Linked DNA regions of Homo sapiens: all the other regions are linked to region 4. Evidence: fine-mapped QTL for protein levels in blood plasma. A gene starts in region 4. Each other region holds a variant in brackets. All regions are shown on one strand. Distances are between the middles of the regions. Region 1 overlaps IL1RAP (interleukin 1 receptor accessory protein). Region 2 overlaps IL1RAP (interleukin 1 receptor accessory protein). Region 3 overlaps IL1RAP (interleukin 1 receptor accessory protein). Region 4 holds the start of IL1RAP (interleukin 1 receptor accessory protein).

What was found. PIP is the posterior inclusion probability: the model's chance that the variant is causal. Protein levels are from antibody-based Olink assays in UK Biobank. Linkage for the fine-mapping came from a reference panel and not from the study's own genotypes, which makes the PIPs less certain.
Region 1: its variant is fine-mapped to the plasma level of the IL1RAP protein (UK Biobank, PIP above 0.99).
Region 2: its variant is fine-mapped to the plasma level of the IL1RAP protein (UK Biobank, PIP above 0.99).
Region 3: its variant is fine-mapped to the plasma level of the IL1RAP protein (UK Biobank, PIP 0.93).

Annotation. Positions count from the first base shown.
Region 1 is chr3:190,635,285-190,640,284 of GRCh38, forward strand. All of the region lies in intron 9 of IL1RAP (interleukin 1 receptor accessory protein), which reads left to right. Among named protein-coding and RNA genes, the nearest start is that of LINC02013, 62 kb to the right of the region's middle. The variant T/C (reference allele first, on the strand shown) is at 2,578.
Region 2 is chr3:190,641,488-190,646,487 of GRCh38, forward strand. It overlaps IL1RAP (interleukin 1 receptor accessory protein), which reads left to right. Exons shown (of 12, transcript NM_002182.4): 10 at 2,761-2,910; 11 at 4,212-4,355. It also overlaps the pseudogene RN7SKP296. Among named protein-coding and RNA genes, the nearest start is that of LINC02013, 55 kb to the right of the region's middle. RefSeq lists an enhancer at 4,376-4,948. The variant G/T (reference allele first, on the strand shown) is at 2,221.
Region 3 is chr3:190,578,204-190,583,203 of GRCh38, forward strand. All of the region lies in intron 3 of IL1RAP (interleukin 1 receptor accessory protein), which reads left to right. Among named protein-coding and RNA genes, the nearest start is that of IL1RAP, 67 kb to the left of the region's middle. The variant G/A (reference allele first, on the strand shown) is at 2,352.
Region 4 is chr3:190,511,142-190,516,409 of GRCh38, forward strand. It overlaps IL1RAP (interleukin 1 receptor accessory protein), which reads left to right and starts at 2,944. Exons shown (of 12, transcript NM_002182.4): 1 at 2,944-3,078. RefSeq lists enhancers at 2,291-2,380, 3,133-3,634, 3,635-4,134 and a silencer at 2,531-2,880.

The DNA.
Region 1 (5,000 bases), 120 kb after region 4:
TTCTCAATTTTGCTAATTTTTTCAATGAACATATTTTTATTGATTTTTCTCTGTTGTTTATATATTTATTTACTTTATTCATATACTTATTTTCCTCTTTTTGCATACTTTGCACTTCATTTTCTTTTTGTCAGTCATCCTAAAATGTAAGCTGTATCACTGATTTTTAAGTAATTCTTCTTTTCCAATATAAGTATTCTGAGCTATGTGTTTTCCTCATAGGATTAGTTTAACTAAATCCAACAAATGTTGAAATGTCGAGTTTTTGTTATTATTAAGTTCAAAATACTTTCTAATTTCTGTTTTCATTTCTTTTTGACCTAAGGGTTATTTCAGTGTGTGTTTTTTAATTTAAACATGCTTGGAATTTTCCAGATCGTTTTACTACATTATATATGAAAATTCATTTGAATTTTAGAGTTGGCTTTATGTTCACTCTTGATAGTTATTTGTAACATTTCATATTGTCATTTAAGTTTAGCTAATGTAAAAAATTAGAAAAAAAGTCTGGGAGCAGGTATCTCCAACTTAGAACTACCTGAGAGAACTACATTACGGAGTGGAGAAACATAGGTTTTTGTTCTAGATAGACCTGGGTTCAAGTTCCGGACTCAGTGCTGGCTGTGTATATGAACTAGTACAAGCCTTCCTTTTCTTATCCTTCAGGTTCAATTTCCAGGGTATCTGTGAAAACCGAGGGAATGGGGAATGAGAGCTTTGCCACAGTGCTGCACACTTGATTCTAATTTCTAATCTTTTATTTAATTCTGATGTGTCCAAAGAACATACTTTGCATGATTTTATTCTTTTTAAGCTTATTGGTACTTAAAAAAAAAGTATTTGCAGACTGCCTATCTTGGTAAATGTTTGATATGCATTTGAAAAAGACATATATTTTGTAGTTTCGAGTGGTGTCCAGTAAATGTCAACTAAGAAAATTGGTGTCAGTGTTGTTCATGTCTTCAATATCCTTCTGATTTTTCCAATATACTTTGTTATTCAGTTATTAAAAGAGAGAATGGTGTTGAAATCTTTACATATAATATGGATTTTTCCAATTCTCTCTTCAGTTCTGCCAGTATTTGTCTCATGTATTTTGGAACTGTGATATTTAATACATGCTTATTTAGGATTGACAAGTCTTTTTCATGAATTGACTCTTAAATTGTGAAATGTCCGTTTTTTCTCTGTTAATACTCTGTGTCTAATATGAATGTAGCCATTCCAGCTTTCTTTTTTTTTACTTTTTTAATTAATTAATTTTTTTTTGGTAGAGGGACGGAGTCTTGCTCTGTCGCCCAGGCTGGAGTGCAGTGGTGCGATCTCAGCTCACTGCCAGCTTTCTTATAATTAGTATATGTTTTTTCCATTATTTTATTTTACCTATCAGCATCTTTATGCTTTTATACTTATACTTTATACTTAATGTATGTATCTTATTTACAGCATATTATTGGGTATTGGATCCAATCTGATCATTTCTGGCTTTTAACTTGAATGTTTAATCCATTTTTCTTTAATTATTAATATGACTGCCTTTAAGTTTACCATCTTGCTATTTGTTGTCCACCTGTCTTTATTTTTATCTCCTCTAGACTAATTGGTATTTTCATTGTATTTTATTTTATCACTTTTTTGAGCTTTTGGCTCTTCCTTTTTGTTTGGGGCTTGTTTTGTTTTGTTTCCTCTAGAGTTTATAATATTTTTCCTAAACTTATCAGTTGATCTTGAATTAATCACTTTACATATTTTATGAGAAACTTACTATGGCGTATTTCCATTTCTTCCCTCCCATCCTTTGTGTTGTGCTATAATACATTTTGGTTTTGCATGAATTACAGTGTACCAACATGTATTGTGAAAGTTTGGCTTTAAATAACTGTCTTCTATTAAGTTAAGAACTGATCTTTTTTTAAATTTATTTGCTTATTTTTTATTTCTGACACTATCCATTCTTGGTAACATTTTAATCTGAAGAACTATTTAATGTTTCTGGTACATCTGCTGGTGACAAATTCTCTCAGCTTTGTTTTAATCTGAAAATGTCCTATTTCATTTTAATTTTTATATTTCAAAACTTTACTAAGAAAGTTTTCAAATATATGGAAGATTTTAAGGAATTACACAGTGAGCAGTAATACAGCCTACCTAGATCCTACCATTAACATTGGTTATCTTTGCTTTATCACATGTCTATTCATTCTTCTGCCAGTATATCAATCCATCTTATTTTCTGATACATTTCAAAGTAGATGCAGACATCAGTAAACATTTAAGCTCCTTATCATTATCAGTGTTTTAATATTTATTTGTAGGTTTCTTTTCTAGGTAAAATTTGCATAAAGTAACAAATTGCATAATTCAAGTGTACCATTTGATAATTTTTGAGAAATGCATATATATATGCATTACCTAATATCCTATTAAGATATAGAATATTACCATCACCAGAAAGTAACATTCTTCCCCTTATCAGTCAATCCTTTCTACCCCCACCTTCCCCACCTCCCCAAACAATACAACTGTTTTTATTTCCTTTTTTAGAATAGTTTTTTTTTTATATATTCTAGAACTCTG[T/C]GTATGTGGACCCATACAGAATGCGCTACTGTATAACTGTACCTTCACTCAGCAAATGTTCTTGATATTCACCCATGCTGTTGTGTGTATCAGGCATTTTCTCCTTTTGTTTGCCATGGAGTGGTTTTGTTTTGTTTTTGTTTTGTTTAAGAATGCAGAATGATTTGTTTATTCATTCTCTGGGTGGTGAACATTTGGGTTGTTATCAGTTTTGGGGTCTTTTGAATAAAGCTTCTGTGAACTTTCTTATCCAAGTTTCTTAATGGACTACCGCTTTTACTTCTCTGAGATGAATACCTATGAGTGGAATTACTGACTTAGTTTTATCAGAAACTGTTAGACCTTTTTTTTTCCCCAAGTGGCTGTATCATTCCATATTCCACCATCAACATATTTACATCTTAAGGATTTGGTGTTGTCAGCCTTCTTTGTTTTAGCAATTATAGGTGAGTGTATGGTGGTATCTTACTGTAGTTTAATTCTTCATTTCCCTGATGTCTCAAAATACTGAGCACTTACACCTCATGTGCTTATTGGCCATCTGTATGTATTTTTTGATGTGACTGTTCAAACATTTTGTTCATTTTATAAATAGTTTGTATTTTATTATTGAATCTTAGCTGTTCTTCATCTGTCCTGGATACCAGTCCTTTGTCAGACACATGTTTTGCAAATACTTTTCCCCAGTCTGTTGCATGACAATTTGTTTTTTCGTGAAGTGTTTTAATGAGCAGAGGTTCTCATTTTTTATGAGATGTAATTTATTAACTTCTTCTTTAATGATTATTAATTTCTGTGTTCTAAGAAAGCTTTGCTTACCCATAGTCAGGAAGGTTCACCTTTGTTTAGGCCTATAGTCCATCTCTTTTCTTTTTTTTCATGAATGGTGTGTAGTAGAAATTGAAGTTCAGTTTTCCTTTCATACCGATATCCAGTTGTTCCAGCACAATTAATTGGAAAGATTTTTACTTTCTCATTATGTTTCTCTGGTGCCTTTGTCAATATTTTCACAGGATATGTTGAAAGTGTATCTATTTCTTTTCTTTCAGCCCTTTAAGGTATTCCATTGTCTCCTGGCTAATATTATTTAAAATGCAAACGGGGCAGTTTTTGTTGCTGCTGTTGTTCTTGTTTATTTTTGTGCCCTTTATGTATTTGTTATGTTTTTCTTTGGCAGATTTTAAGATCACCTTTTCTTTATTGATTTTGAAAATCAAATTATGATGGCCTGTGGTGTCCTTTGTGTGTGTGTGTTTCTTACTTAGAGTTTATTAAACTTCTCAGTTCTATGTGTTTATATTTTTCCTTTACTGTGAACAATTTTCAGCCATTTTCTTTTCAAATATGTCTAGCTTTCCCCCTCACTCTTTCTCTTCTTTTAGTACTCCAGCTGAAATTAGGATAGACCACTGCTATCCAATTAGTAGTGCCCCACAGATCACTGATCTCGTTATTTTTATTTCTTCCTTTTTCATCCTTTTCCCTGCTCTGTGTTTGTGTAGTTTCCAATGTATGCTGGCCATTTTCTTTGTGATGTCTAATCGATAGCATTTTCTTTATTTCAGAATTGTATCTTTTAGCTTTTGAATTTCCATATCTTCATTGAAAGGTCCCTATTGATATTTTCTATTTGCTGTTCACAATGTTCATGGTTTTAAAAAAATTGAACAAATACACATAGAATACTCATTTTTAGGTGTTTATCTGATAATTCCACCACTTTTGTCAATTTTTGTTCTGTTTTGATTAGCTATCTTTTTATTAGCTAATATAGACTTTTTTGCTTTTTTATATAGCTTTTTAAAAATTATATGCTGGATATTATGGATGTTACAATTTTGAGTTCTGAATTTCGTAAGACAGTGTTAAATTTTGTTCTAGAGGGTAATTAAATTACTTGCATAACTGCTTGCTTTTAAAAAAGCATCTTATCTTTGTTAAAGCAGGTCTAAAATAGCCTTTTCTGTAAGGTTAGATTGGACCTACTTCTAAAGCATGTCATACCTGAAGTCTCTAATTAATACTGGGGAGCTAAACACAGTCTCTTCACTCTGAGTGGCCTGTACCCAACTGTCTCACAGCCCTTCATGTGCTCCTAGAGTTGATCTGTTCCCAGCTATTCTTTGCCTAACCTTTTAAAGTATTCCCCCAAATATGTGTAGCTTTGTATTTGGCCGAAGACTCGAGATAATCCTGTGCAGATTTCTAGAGTTCCATCTCTAAATAGTTCTCTTCTCTATAAATGCAATCTGACTCAACAGCAGCCTTGAACTCTCATTTCTATCTCTTTAGCTCAGTGTGACCACTTTCTCATTTTGGCTTTCCCTTCTCTGTGCCACAGTTTAAAAGGTGCCTTTAATCGAAAAGCCAGAGTGATCGTAGCATTTACCTCTTTTTTGTCTTTTCTCTCACAGATCACATTC
Region 2 (5,000 bases), 130 kb after region 4:
TAGCATTAATGACTCCTTTTTATCAAGATTGCTCTACAAAATACAGTCTGTAAATATGACAAATGACTGTATGACACAAAACAGAATTAAAATGCCCCATTAGAAATAAAATGGGCAGTAGTAAAATGAATGAGGCAGGGGAAATTTATGAGGGTAATTGATCTCTCGGTCATTAAGCAGGCTCTCTATTGGCATTTAACAAAAATCCATTTCAGGTACGTGCAGCCAGCAACAACCTCCACCCCCATTACAAAATGTTCATCCAGAGAGAGCCAAAATAACTGAGCAAATAATGAAAATAACAGTGGAAATTACCCTGTTGTACTGTTAACATAACGTACTCAGAAATACCAAGGACACAGTGATTTTCATGCCAGCTATCCAAATAGATCTTAGTAAACTTTCAGCAACTGCACTAACACAGCTTCTGGAATTTATGATGGAGTTTTCTTGTTTTAAGGTGCCATTATTCATGGAAGGAGTAGAAGAGTACCTGGTAATAATTTTGCACTGCTAAGTCCCAGGCTATACCTGTGGCAGGATTAATATCCCCAGTTTAGGATAATAAAATCAAAACTCTATGATTCACCCTTTAATAAGAGAACTTCAGGTTCAGCTCCAGGCTGCTTACCATTTTCTGCTTTGAATAGATGCCTTTTTAAAAAGTGATTTCCTGGATGTGAAGCTGATCTGCCTGCAACATCTGTCACCCCATTGATCACCAGGGTAGATTCAGCTTATCTGGCTGGCTAAGCGGGTGTCCCCTTCCTCCCTCACTGTTTCACGTGACTCCTTCCCGAAGCTGCGCACTCAGTGGAAGAGGACGACCATCTGCAATAGAGGGGGACTGGTCTTTTGTCAAGGGTATAGGAGTAGCTGTGCTCCCCTGCTAGAACCTCCAAACAAGCTCTCAAGGTTCATAAACGTGATTCTATTTCAACTGTTGTATGATCAATAATTGAGCTTCATCGTGATGGTGTTCAAAGATCCCCGCACTTTGGAGTCAGGGAGCCTCTACAGCAATTCCAGCTTGGAATGAGATTCTTCTAAGCTGTGTCTCAGCAAACATTTAACATCTACAATGTTCTAGGTGCTTACAGAAGCCTTCCCTCACCACCTTATGCAGTACACCGCCCTTGCCCCAGTCCCACCCTTCAATCACCTCTATCACATTACCATGGTTTATTTCTCTTATAGCACTAATCACTATTTAAAATTAACCAGCTGATTTATTTCTTTACATATTTACTGCCCTGAATTAGAATATTAGCCACAAAAGGGCAGAGACCCTTTCCGTCTTATTCACCATTGTATCCCCAGAAGCTTCTGGCAAATGGTAGATGTCAATAGATAATAATCAAATTGACTAATACACAATTTAAGCCACTCCTGCTTCAGACCCAGTAAATATACTGTTCCTCCTTCAAACACTTAAACTTCATTATCACAAGCTAATAAAGCAACTAAATAAAATTGTGAAACATAATTTAGTAATAGACTTCTAAATATCCCAGAAGTGTAAAATCTTATATGTGGAAATGTTCATTGAGATACTAGGCATTCTAGGGATATCATGGAAGAAAAAGACATAATCTCTACCTGAAAGACTGTAAAGGTATAGTTAATGAGAGGGAGTGAAGAAGCTGACCTGTAGACAAATTACAATATAATAAGTAATGCTGTAATCAAATGATAAACAAAGGGAAGAGTAAAAATTTCTACACGGGAGAGCCAGGTTTCAATAAAAATTTTATTCTATAAAAGCTTATATAAAATAATGATATTCGAGCATAGACTTGGAAACTAAAAAGAGAAAGGACTTCCAGCCAGAAGTCACAGCATGAGAAACGGGCATCATATTAAATCTTCCTGATGTTTTTGATGAAAAAGCAATGGTAAATGAGAAAGGAAGGAAGGTGGTTAGTAATTTGGTTGTGACAGACCTTGATTATAGGGCTAATGAGTTAAGATCTGGTTTTTAAGTACTGGAGAATTACCTCACTCTATTTCTGATACTTCCAAAGAAACTGCAAAGGTGCCTAAAATATAAAAAATAAGTAGATAATGCAGAAATCTGTTCACAATCAGATATTGCAAGTTCACCTCTAGAATATGTACTGAAGAACTGTGAACATGGGAAATAACTTCCAGAACCAAGCATATTCAGCATCTGGTGGATGTCCTTTGCTTTTGCACAGTGAAAATAATGTTTTTGAGGCC[G/T]ATTTCCAAGTAGAAAGGAAAGACAATTAAATTCCTTTCATACTACACTAGACAAGAGAATGAAACTATAGTGGAAAAATATTGAGATTTTTACTCAAATCAGCTGCATCAACAATTAAAATTCTACCAATACCGTGGACTTCTTCAGGTAGCAATGAGAACTCCATCCCAAGATATGGACCGAGGATGGAATGATAATTTTCAAAAATATTTGTAAGGAGGTTTAGGTGTCAAATTGTGACTTGAATTTGATGACCTTCTAAGCCCTTCCTGATGTTATGATTCTGTTTTAATTTATATATTGTCAAAGACTATTCAAATAAAAAACACCTTCTATGCCAGGTGCTGGAAACAAAAAGATAAACATAACACAGTCTAGTATTTTAAAATAGTGCTAAACTCTACAATGTTATCTCTGATTGTTCATACATAGGCAGGTGCATAGCTAAGCTGCTTGGCTTATCCAGCTATTTGCCGGGATGGTGGGTCACTGTGGTCACCACACAGAAATCAATTCTGTTTCTTTGTTGTTCATTCCAGTGCCAGCTCCAAGATACACAGTGGAACTGGCTTGTGGTTTTGGAGCCACAGTCCTGCTAGTGGTGATTCTCATTGTTGTTTACCATGTTTACTGGCTAGAGATGGTCCTATTTTACCGGGCTCATTTTGGAACAGATGAAACCATTTTAGGTAAGTAACAGAAATTTGACATAAACCTCTTCTACTGTCATCTTTAGAACATATGTTGTAAAAAAAAGAAAAAAGAAAACATGTTGATTTGAAAAACCTAGATTAACTGGAAGATTTAAGCAGATTAACTTTAATTTCAACCGTTGCTATTAGAAATCTTTCCGAAGATTATTATTCTATTTTCTTGGATTAATTAGTGAGTCGGTCTAAATTAACACCCTCCAAATAGAAATATAATGCGAGCCACTTACCTACTTAAAATTTCCCAGTGACCACATTAGTAAAAGTAAAAAGAAACAAGTAAAAATAACGAATTGACTAAATATATTTATAATACTATTTTTTAGCATGCAATTAATATTAAAAAGCTAATGAGATATTTTAGTGTTTTCTTTGGTACTAAAAATGTTCAAAATGTAAAATGTATTCTACTTTATCCTTATAGCACATCTCAATTCAAACCAGCCACATTTCGAGTGAGCAATAGACTCGTGACTCGTGGCTGCTGTATTGGACAGTGCTGATCCACACTCCTTGTACTCAGATAGAGATCTGTGAACCAGCAGCAACATATCACGTGTAGCTTATTAGAAGAAGAATCTTAGACCTAGCCCCTACTGACTCAGAATCTACATTTAAACCATATTCCCAAGTGATTCATGTGTACGTTAACATCTGAAAAGCACAGCTCTAGTGCAAATTTGCTTAGTGAAAAGAATAGAGCATTTAAACATACAAATTCATAGGTCCACCCCATAAAGATTTTAATTCAGTAGGCTTATGGAAGAAACACGGAATCGATAGTTTTTAATGAGATGTGATTTTTCTAATTAAGCAACTTCGTGAAAGATTGGTCCATTAAATCTAATTATATTTTTAATTTTAGTTCTTTTCAGATATAAATAATTCAGGCAGTTTCACAAGGTTTTACTCAATTTGTAATTTTAAGATATTAATGAGTGATAGGCTTGGACAGGAAGTTGAAATTTTCTCTACAGTGTTAATTGCCAGTACCTATGATTTACCTTCTGGCTTTGTTAATTTACAGTTGAATGGGACAAACCTCACTCTTTTTCCACTGTAAAGCAACCTGTAAGATGAGAGTTGAGGATATATCAGATAACATTCAAAATTACATCTTCAAATAGTCGTTTTGCGTGGAGACTTGTTGCAAGTAGAAAATCGCACTGGAATCTGTCACATAATGAAAATGTCTAATATGCAGAAGTTAGATTTAAGAAAAATGTAATGGTATTGAGAAACTTTCCTAATTTACATTGTATCTGTGTTCCTTTTGCTAGATGGAAAAGAGTATGATATTTATGTATCCTATGCAAGGAATGCGGAAGAAGAAGAATTTGTATTACTGACCCTCCGTGGAGTTTTGGAGAATGAATTTGGATACAAGCTGTGCATCTTTGACCGAGACAGTCTGCCTGGGGGAAGTAGGTATTTCAGAGGAGTACAAATGATGCTACCTTGAAAGGCAGACAGAATCATTAGTTTTGCATTATGGGAGAGAGTCATGGCACAGCATCTTTGGATATTTAATGTCCGATGCTCTTTGATGTAACAGACTCCTCTAGAAATAAAACTACGTTGGAAATGTATACTATTCAACTCAGTTTATGGTATTAAAATATTTTCCCTTGCAATCTTTCAGAGATGCATGTCAGAAAAGCATGGAGGCACAGTGGATTAGAGCTCTGTTAAAGGGCCATAGCTGTAAACATCCTGTTTATTCACATTTAGATTTTTCGGTTTAGGCTAATCTACACTGGTTGGTCTAGAACTGTTTTACAAGACTGAGAATTTTTTTTTAAAGCAGTTTTATTTTGGTTTTAGAAAGACAGAGGTTTACTTGGTTTTACTAAAAGTGAGTGGCGGAAGAGTGTGGGTAGAATTTTTCCTTATGTGATTCACTGATAATAATTACAGTATTTTCCTGTGGCATTTGCTCTTTTTTTTCCCCCTCACTTTTCTTTTCAAGCAAAATAGTGCTACTCAAATTCCCCTTTTCCTTGGGTCTATTTCTTCTTCCTGTCAGCTTATACATTTGAGGGTTACTTTAAAATTTTATAATAGCCAGT
Region 3 (5,000 bases), 67 kb after region 4:
AAATGAAATTACTTATTGTCTGACTGTATTTCAATCTAATTAAATTTATAATTGGAAGTAAAGGGTAACTTAATTTTTAGAAGTAAGAAAGTATATAGATCTGAGCTGTTGTATTCCTCGGGATGGCAAGCAAGAGGCAATTGTGACAGGTATGATAGTTTAAGCCTTGGCTCTTTGTTTCTGTCTGTAAATTGGTATGTTAATAACTTCTCTAGCACAGAGGTAACTTCAATATTCATGAAATGACCTCAGTAGAATACTAAATTAGAAACTTTGTAATGGAAAATAGATATTACCATAGATTTTCCTGCATTATAACCATGGCTTGTGTTTGTGTATTTGTTAGCATGTTGTGTCAAGAAAATAAGCATTAGCTACCCAAATACTTGGAATTTGAAATTAGCAACTCCCCACTTTCCTCCATCAGTCTACTAATATTGGATACTGTATTAGTCTGTTCCCAAGTTGCTAATAAAGACATACCCAAGACTGGGTCATTTATAAAGCAAGAGAGGTTTAATGAACTCACAGCTCCACATGGTTGGGGAGGCCTCAAAATCATGGAGGAAGGTAGAAAAGGAGGAGCAAAGGCATGTCCTACATGGCAGCAGGCCAGAGAGCGTGTGCAGGGGAACTGCCCTTTATAAAACCATCAGATCTCATGAGACTATCATGACAACAGCATGGGAAAAACCCGCACCTGTGATTCAATTACCTCACACTAGGTCCCTCCCATGGTATGTGGGGAGTATGGGAGCTACAATTCAAGATGATATTTGGGTGGGGACACAGCCAAACCATATCAGATACTTAGCCCTAAACCTATCTATACACCCTGATTCTTACCAACTTTATCTACTCATTTAAACATATCTCTTTGTTACAGGCAGCTTTCTGTTTTGTTTGTTTTTGGTTTTGTTTTTAAAAGCTCAGTACTACAGAACATAGTAAGCTAGTTATCAACATTTCCGTATCTGTAGGCATGGTTATGCATGTGTTAAATTAATACTTCTTCCTTCAACCATCAGCCTTTCTTCATTTCTCTATGCAATAAACATATGTTGTATTGGGCTTACACTGTGTGCTAGATACAGTTCACATTATCATTATATTCACTAACCATTACAGGGATGAATGATATCATACAGTATTTACAGTATTAAAATGGTTATATTATTTGATCTTAGAATAGCATTGTAAAATATATTATTATTGTCACTTCACAAATAAGGAAATAGAGGCCCGGAGAGATTAGGTGGTTTAGACGTAGTTTTGCATATAGGAAGTAGAACCAGGACTCAAGGTTTTGTCCTCTGTTCCCAAGCCCATTATTCTTTTTCCTGGCAGACCCAAGGGATTCCTACCTTTTTATTACTGAGGACATCTTTTATTTTATATTTTTTCTAAAGATTCCTTTTATTGCAAGCAATAAAACCAGACACATTAGTCGTGCTGCCATCACAACAATCTAATTTTAGAACATTTCATCACCCCAAAACGAAGCCCTGAGGATTAGCAGCCAATCCACAACCCATTCTCCCCCACCCAAGCCCTAGGCAACCAGTAGTCTACTTCCTGTCTCTATAGATTTGCCTATTCCGGATATTTCATACAAGTGGGATGATATTATATGTGGCATATTGTGATTGATTTAGTTTTCACTTAATGCAATGTTTTCAAGGTACAGCTATGATATAGCATGTATCACTACATCATTTTTTAGTGATGAATAATATTCATCATTGAATCATAATTGAGAAATATTCTTCATCCCTGATGCACCTGTGTGTGATTTCCAAATTTTGACTATCATGAATAATGCTACTATGAACATATGTGTACAAGTTTTTGTGTGGACATATGTTTTCATTTTTCTTGGGTATATAGCTGTAAGTTGAATTACTGGATCAAGGTAACTCTATGCTTAACATTTTGAAGAACTGCCAACTACGTTCCAACGTAACTGTGCCATTGTAAATGTCTTTTTGAAGTATTTTGAAGTATATACCTATTTGAGGTATTTGCACTCTCATATTCAACTGAGAACATCTCCTGTGAGTATCTCATGTTCAACTGATTTCAGCTCTTGTGTATCTCGTGTTCAACTCTTATGCTCAACTGATTTCAACTCCAATGAATATCTACCAAGAAGTGGGACTGCTGGATGAAATGCTACTCTCATTTTTAATTATTTGGCAAAACTTCCATAGTGTTTTTCCAGAATGGATAAAGAGAATGCATTATATCATACAATTGAGTGTCAGTCAGCCCTAAGAAAGGAGGAAATCCTGCCATATGCATAGACCTGGAGGACATTATGCTAAGTTAAATAAGCCAGGCACAGAAGGACA[G/A]ACACTACATGATGCTATTTACATGAGGAATCTAAAATAGTCAAACTCATAGAAGCTGGGAGTAGAATGGTGGTTGCCAGAGGCTGAGAAGGGGGAGAAATGGAGAGGTGTTAATCAAAGGGTGCAAAGTTTCAGTTACGCAAGGTAAGTCCTAGAAATCTACTCTACAGCTTAGTGCCTATGGTTAACAATTCTGTATTGTATACTTAAGAACTCGCTAGGAAATTAAATGTTACATAAAGTGTTCTTATCACTAAAATAATTAATACATAAATGAATACATAAATAGGGCAGGAGGAAACTTTTAGAGGTTATGTGTATGTTTATGGCATAGATTGTGATGATGGTTTCTTGCCCGTGTATATATCTCCAAACTCCTCACTTTAGGCACATCAAATATATACAGCTTTCTGTATGTCAATCATACCTCAGTAAAGTGGTTTTTAAAAAAGAAACAGCAGAAGAGGTCATTGTGAATTCAGAGGTCTTCAGAGGACTCAGCCCTTTAATCTCTGATTCAGTAAAGTGGCATTCGAGTGTTTCCTTTTTTGTTAGTGTAACAAATATAAATCTCAGTGCTATGGGAGCTCAGAAAGTGTTCTGGATCAGAACATGCCCTGGGTAATTCACAGTGTATAAGGCAGAGAAGAAAAACCTGGACTCAAGTCAAATCCTGGTTTCCGTATGACTCTCAGTGTCCTTATCTATAAAATGAAGCTGATAGTATCAGCCCTGCATACCCCACAGAGCTGTTTTGGAGATCCAGTGAGAGAATGAATCTAAAGTTTTCTGTAACCAGTAAAAGCAAATCAGGAAGCAGAAGCTCAGTCAAATGAGCCTAGAAACCACACACTTGGCAGGTAGGTAAGCACCAGTTGGTGCTCTGTATTATGAGATTAGGACTGAGACCTTTTACATTCGAAGCTGGGTGCTTGCCGACAAGAATCCGTATTTCCAAATGTGAGCAAACCCTTGCCCAGCAGAGTTTTCACAAAATCCAGATGTTGAGTTTTGTGTCAATTGTTTAAGAATTCAAAAGCAGATAGTAGCATATTTTTCAAAATCAGTTGCTTGACAACCAGTTTATGGTCCTATGATTCTCTGCCACCTTCCCTGGTTTTGACGACTCTAAATCAGTTGAAACTTGTATTATTTTTCTATTGTATTTTTCAATATATTTGCCAAAGAATATGGGAAAAGAAACTTTATTCATTCAACAGCCATTGTTTGAGGTATTTCCATGAGCCAGGTATTTGATAGGCATTAGGATATGGTGAAGAACAAATAGTCCCTGTTCCTTTCTTCATGCTCGTTTGTGTCTCATATGTCTAACTGTTTCAGGGTCCCTGCTATTCACCGTGACTCACAGATGGCACCAATACTGTGTTTTAAAAATGAAAAGCAAAGTGGAGGTCAAAGTTAGGTTCTAAAAAAAATAAAAATGAGGAATAACATAAGGAGGATAAAAGATGTTGAGGCTGCAGTTCAGTTCTGTTGCTAATTTACTGGGTGATTTGGGCAAGCTACTTAACCTCTCAGAATCTGTTTCCACATCTGTTAATTTGCTTAGTTCTTGACTCTAACAAGCTAGCATTCTGTAGTTTGAGATTTAAGAGCCTCTGAAACAAGTTTCCTTTCTATTTCTTTACATTTTTGATCAATCCATCTTTGCTCATTTTCCATGTGGCTCTTATCTGCTCCTCTCCATCTTAAGTATTATCCTAGTCCAAGCCACATCATCTCATTCTTGAACTTTTCTTTTCTTTTTTTTTTTTTTCATTTGAGATGGAGTTTCACTGTTTTTGCCCAGGCTGGAGTTCAGTGGCACGATCTCGGCTCACTGCAACCTCCACCTCCCGGGATCAAGTAAGTCTCCTGCCTCAGCCTCACACATGGCTGGGATTACACGCGTGCGCCACCACCCAGGCTAATTTTGTATTTTTAGTAGAGATAAGGTTTCACCATGTTGGTCAGGCTGGTCTCAAACTCCTGACCTCAGGTGATCCACCCGCCTCGGCCTCCCAAAGTGCTGGGATTATAGGCTGAGCCACCCTGCCTGGCACATTCTTAAATTTTTCTGCAGTAGCCTCATAATTAGCTGTTTCTCCTTCACTTTTACTCTCTACAGTCCATTCTTCACACAGTAACCAGTGTTACCTATTTCAAATTGTAAATTAAATCAGGTGTCTCCTCTGTGGAAAACCCTGGAATATGTCCCATTATTCTTAGAATTAAATTTAAGTTCCTTACAGCGGCCTATATGCTCTTATATGTTCAAATTCCTACCTGTTGCTTCAGCTTCTTCATATTCCACTGTTTTCCTTGCCCCTGGCAGTGAAGTTTTCTGAGATTCTTCAGGAACTTCACATGTACTATTCCCTTTCTCACCTAAGTTCTTCCTTCACACACTCTCCTCTCAACTTTGTCCCTCACATCTTCATTCTATTTCACTCAGCTCAAAAGTCCATTTCTCAGGGAACATCCCATCTCCTGCCCTAATCAGCGACCTCTCAGGCTAAGTAAGATCCCTGTTAATATATCCACTTTATACGCTGTACGTCTTTTTCATGATAATCACTCCAATAGCAATTGTTGTTAATTGGGTAATTATTTATTTAACTACTTAATTAATGTCTGTGACCTTCTCTA
Region 4 (5,268 bases):
TGACTGTGGAGTGGTAGAGATAAATGTCTGAATGGATTGGGTTCAAGAGACTAGCAAACTCCTGATGCGTCTTACAGCTACAGCAAGATAATTAAAGATAACCTAAAAAAAAGGTGGAGGGTAAAAGCTGGGAGAAGAAGAGAATAATAATACCTTTCCAAATACATCAATCAATTGCAAAATATTTTATTGTGCATCTTCTATACATCCAGCAGTATTAGTCACTGACATCAATGAATTTGTAGCTTCATTTATTCATTTAGGCAACTATTATTCATCAAATGTTTAGTATGTGATGGATATTTAATGGGTATAGCTTTAAAATATTTTTCTCAATTGTTAGCATAACATTTTTTCATTTTTAATTATTACGGGTACATAATAGGTGTATATATGTATGGGTGACATGTGATGTTTTGATACATGCATACAATGTGTAATAATCACATCAGGGTAATGACAACAGGGTGTCATCACCTTGACCATTTGTCACTTCTTTGAGGAACATTCCAATTTCACTCTTACTTATTTTAAAATGCATAATTAATTATTGTTGACTGTAGTCACTCTGTTGTGCTATCAAGTGCTGGGTCTTATACATTCCAGCTAATTATATTTTTGCAACCGTTAACCATCCTCCCTTCCCCACAACTCCCTTGCCTCTGCTACTCTTCCCAGCCTCTGGTAACCATCATTCTACTCTCATATCTCAGTTCCTTTGTTTAATTTTTAGCTCCCACGTGTGAGTGAGAATTTGCAAAATTTGTCTTTCTGTGCTTGGTTTATTTCACTTAAATGTAAAAGGAAAAAGAGATGTTTCTATTTCTGTAATCCTAACATATCAACATTTTTTCACATTCCTTTCAATTGGTGTTCATCTCTCCACAACTTTTACTCAACCTTATTTTGTAAGCCTTTTTCTTTGTAGACATATTTCCATAATATGATAGTTATGATGCAAATATTTTATTCTGTGCGTAGACAGCGTTGGTTAACTAATCATTTTCATTTCCAACCATTTATATTGTGTTCAAACTACAATATACTATGAATATTTGTCTATATGATTATTCATCTTAATGTTATCTTCCTTAAGCTATGAGTAGCCCTTCAATGTCCGGGAATATACATCTGGTTCAATTCTGAATTACTAGCATCTGTTTGGCTTCTAGGTAGTACATGAGACTGAGTAGCGGCTGAGAGCATGAACGTCGAGTGTCTCTAGTCTCATTTTGTATTCTCCACTTGTAGGCCTGTAGCCTTGGTCAAGTTATTTAAATTCCCTTTATCTCCTTTATGAACTGGAGATAATAATAGCACCCTCCAGGTTGTATTGAGGGTTACCTGAATTAATATACACAAAGTCCTTATGATTGCACCTTTTTATTTTGTAAGCACTGTGTAAATGCTTCAGTGTACTATATATATATAAAAGTCTGTGCCCAGAATATATTTAAGGAATGAATAATAAATCAGAAAATGTTTTATTGTTGCTTCATACAGGTAACATTTTAAATTCTTTTGGATTATTTTCTCTTTGGTTCAGTGACAATGTTGTGAGCAGGTGCTGGGTCCCAGGTATCCTGAGATAAATAAAAATTTTGAGCAATTAATTTTCATAAGTGATGTCAAGAAGTAAAGTATCATGAACATTTCTATGGCTCCAATTACACTGATATTTCACCTTAGGAACTGAAGCTCCGCCAGGGCAGGGGCAGCCTCTGAGTTTCGTACTGCTGTGCACCTTTAGCAGCACGGGCACCTGCTGGTTTCATTTCCTTCCCACTCACCTGGGCCCTTTTCTTATTTCACATCTTTTTTCTCCTTTTCCTTAAATGCTTTCTCTGAATCTTGATTCTTGAAAATAAATTAGTAGGATTCAGTTAGGTAGGAGGAGGAGAAAAGAAGATGTGATGAGCAAGAAGATGTGCGAAGACTCGTCAGTCTGGTAGGTGGCTTTGGTTAGGGGGTTTCAGAAATGGGGACAGGTCATGAAGGGCCTTGCCAGTCAGGAAAAATCATGAGGCACTAGCAGTAGGAACACAGCAGAAGGTGCCTGAACAAGAGAGATGACTTAATGAAAGCCTTTATAACGCTTCCCGGGATATATTACAGACTACCATCTACAGTGGCAGAGGGCAGCTGAAGGAAGGCTCTTGCAAAAACTTGGGGAAATGGAAATGAATGAAGGCAAATATTTGTTTTGAGATTATTTCCTTCTATGTAACCTATTAGTTCTTTTATTCGTTCCCCATACATGTATTGAGTGCCTACTTTGTGCCAGGCACTGTGCTAGGCAATGGGTATATTACCAGTGGACAATACAGATTTAGTCTTGCTGTCATGTCCTGTTGCTTGCTCATATGAATGTCAGTTCAAGACAGCAAGAGCTCAGGACTGCGGAGATCGCATCTACATCCTGCCGCGCTCTGTGCCGGCACAGGGTGGTTGCGAAAATCGTGCAGTCTGAATTGATTCAAGGCCTTGCAGCATGATTGCTAAATACGTCGAGACAGGAAGAAAGGGCAGGGTGGCACCGATCTCAACTGCGAGAGCACGATCTTGCAATGAGCGCATGTGTGCGCCTCGGTGTGTAGTGAGGGGCGTAGCTTCCCACAGCGCCTGGCAGCGTGCCGAGCTGCGCTGCAGGACTAACCCTCTCCTTTCCCCGCGCGCTCAAGCCCGCACAGGCGGTGGCAGGGAGCCGAAGGGGCCGAGCGCAGCCTTGCATCCGTCCGCAGGCGGGCCCGGCGCCGCGCCTCCTGGCGGCGGGCGGGACCGTCCAGGACGCCGCCCCGCGGCCGCAGCTCCTGGAAGCCCAGAGCGCCGGTGGATCGCGAGCCAAGGCGGCGGGTGGAGCCTGAGCCGTGAGGCCGTGGCCAATCGCGCCGCTCCGGGGGAGGAGCCCCAAAGGGGGAAAAGAAAGTGCGGCGGAAAGTAAGAGGCTCACTGGGGAAGACTGCCGGGATCCAGGTCTCCGGGGTCCGCTTTGGCCAGAGGCGCGGAAGGAAGCAGTGCCCGGCGACACTGCACCCATCCCGGCTGCTTTTGCTGCGCCCTCTCAGCTTCCCAAGAAAGGTGAGTCTCGCGCCGCCGTGAGGGCTCAGAAGTCACCAAGCCGCAGAATCTCAGGGTAGACGGATTCTTAGAGATCCTATCGTTAAACCCTCCTACTTTACAGAAGAGGAAACTGAGGCACAGAACGAGGCAGCGGCTGGGATAGGTCATACTGCTAGTTAGGACTGGAGCCCGGATTCGAACCCAAACGTTCAGAGACCCATCTTTGCTTTGCAGGGATTTAAGTAACGCGGTTGTGGGACGTCTGCTCGTTGCCGCCCCCATCCTCAGCCCTTTGAGGGGTCTACCCTTGTTTTCCTCCTCACCGCCCCCTCCCCGCTACCACCCCCCGCCCCCATCTCCTCCTTGGTTTCTCCAGACCGCTGCTGGAAGCGCCGAGGACAGAAGGAAGCGGTGTGTCCCAGCACGCCCACTCGGTATCACGTCGCTCTCAGCGCAGAGCTGTGACAGCCTGGGAAAATGCTGCTTGCAGCCTCACTCCCTCTTCCCCTGACCTGCTTTCTCAGAAAGATGCCCCTTCAGAGGGTGTCGGACCAGCTTCTGGAGGAGCGCGGGGAGAGAGGAGCGAGGCCCGGGCGCCAGTGACCTCCTATGGTACTGTTTCTTCCCAGCCCCGGAGGAAGCGGAGCTAGTGGCCCTGTGGGGCACAGGGTGCCCCTCACTTGGGAAGAGCTGACTTCATGGAACCATAGAGCCCCTTCCCTCTTCTAAATACTGAGAGGGAGCAAGGAAGCTGAGTTAAAGAGAAAATCACAAACATAAAAGCAAACTTCGGCTGTTTCCTTTAAGAGCTAGCCCACAGCCTGTCTTCCCTCCACCTTCTGGTTGTGAAATTGTGAACCAGGGCGCCACGCGAAGCATTCTGCTGCTCTGCTGTACAGATCCCTGGTTTAGCTACTGGATGAGAAAGAGGACTTGAGTTTTGACTCCAGCTCTTCCATGTATTAGCAGTGTGAACTTGGGCAAGTTATCTCACCTTTCCGATACTGGGTTTTTCTTTTCTTTCTTTCTTCCTTTTTTTTTTTTCCAGCCAAAAAATGGAGATTTATAATGGTCACAATGAGCCCTTTGGGTAGTTGGAAGGATGAAATGGGATCATTCAAGTAGCATGTTTAGCACAGTGCCTGGCCTGGCATCTGGTTGGTTCAAAACCAATGGCAACTATTGTAAATATTGTTACATAGTAACCTTGCAGACAGTGGGTTTTCAGAAAGGTGATTTCATACCATCTTACAGAGGCATTTTAAAAAAATCTGTAAATGTGGTGTCTTTCTTCTTTTGAATTTGAGCAACTCTTTTATAATAAGAATTTTCTGAATGTTGTCCATATGTGATGTGGATCATGGATGCTTAGCTCGAAATGTAAAATTGATGTTTCTCGGTGATATGAATTTCCTACTAGTTTTTAGGTCAAACCTCAGGCCTGTGAACTGCCCTGATCTGAGACATCCTTTATTGACAAAGAGGGTCTTGAAATGGGTGAGAGGCAGAAAGACAAGAAGACAAAGTTGGAAGTTGCAGCTGTGTTACAGATTATTCTAAGCCTTCTATCCTTGCTCTCTTAGGTCAGTCGAGCAACCTTACATTTTTCATCTAGTATCAGAAAACAAACAAAATTCTCATATATTTCTTTTGGATTGTACAGAGATGCTGCTAAATGCAAACCTTTCTGGACACAAACTTGCCTTATTTAAACACGAACACACAGACATTCACATGCCCACACTAGTCTTCCTGTATTATTGGTATTTTAAAGTTAAATGGATTCCCTCCCACACCCTTAACCCTTCTCATGACAATTGATTTTATTCTGATGAACTTCATGCAATAATTTACTACTATCTACTGGCTTTGCCATGCGTCCTTAAATTGAGTGTCCAGCATTTGTAGTTGGCTGCCTCCTTCACAGGCCATAGCATTTGTATGCAGTATTGGTAAGTGCTTGAGAACAGAGTGTGATACATCTTGATGGAAGATAAGAGCCCAGTGGTGCCCACTTAAGTACCTCCCGCACCAAGCATTAGTAAAGGATGGGATCACCTGCTTCTATCAGCTTGTTCCATGTACATGCATTGTGGTGAGCTGGCTGGGATATGACTGAATGTGTGCCTGAGAGACAGGGGCCTTGTGGGGGAAAAGGAAAATGTTCAAAATAAGGTCAGATCATGAGGATGGAAGGGAGATTAAAAG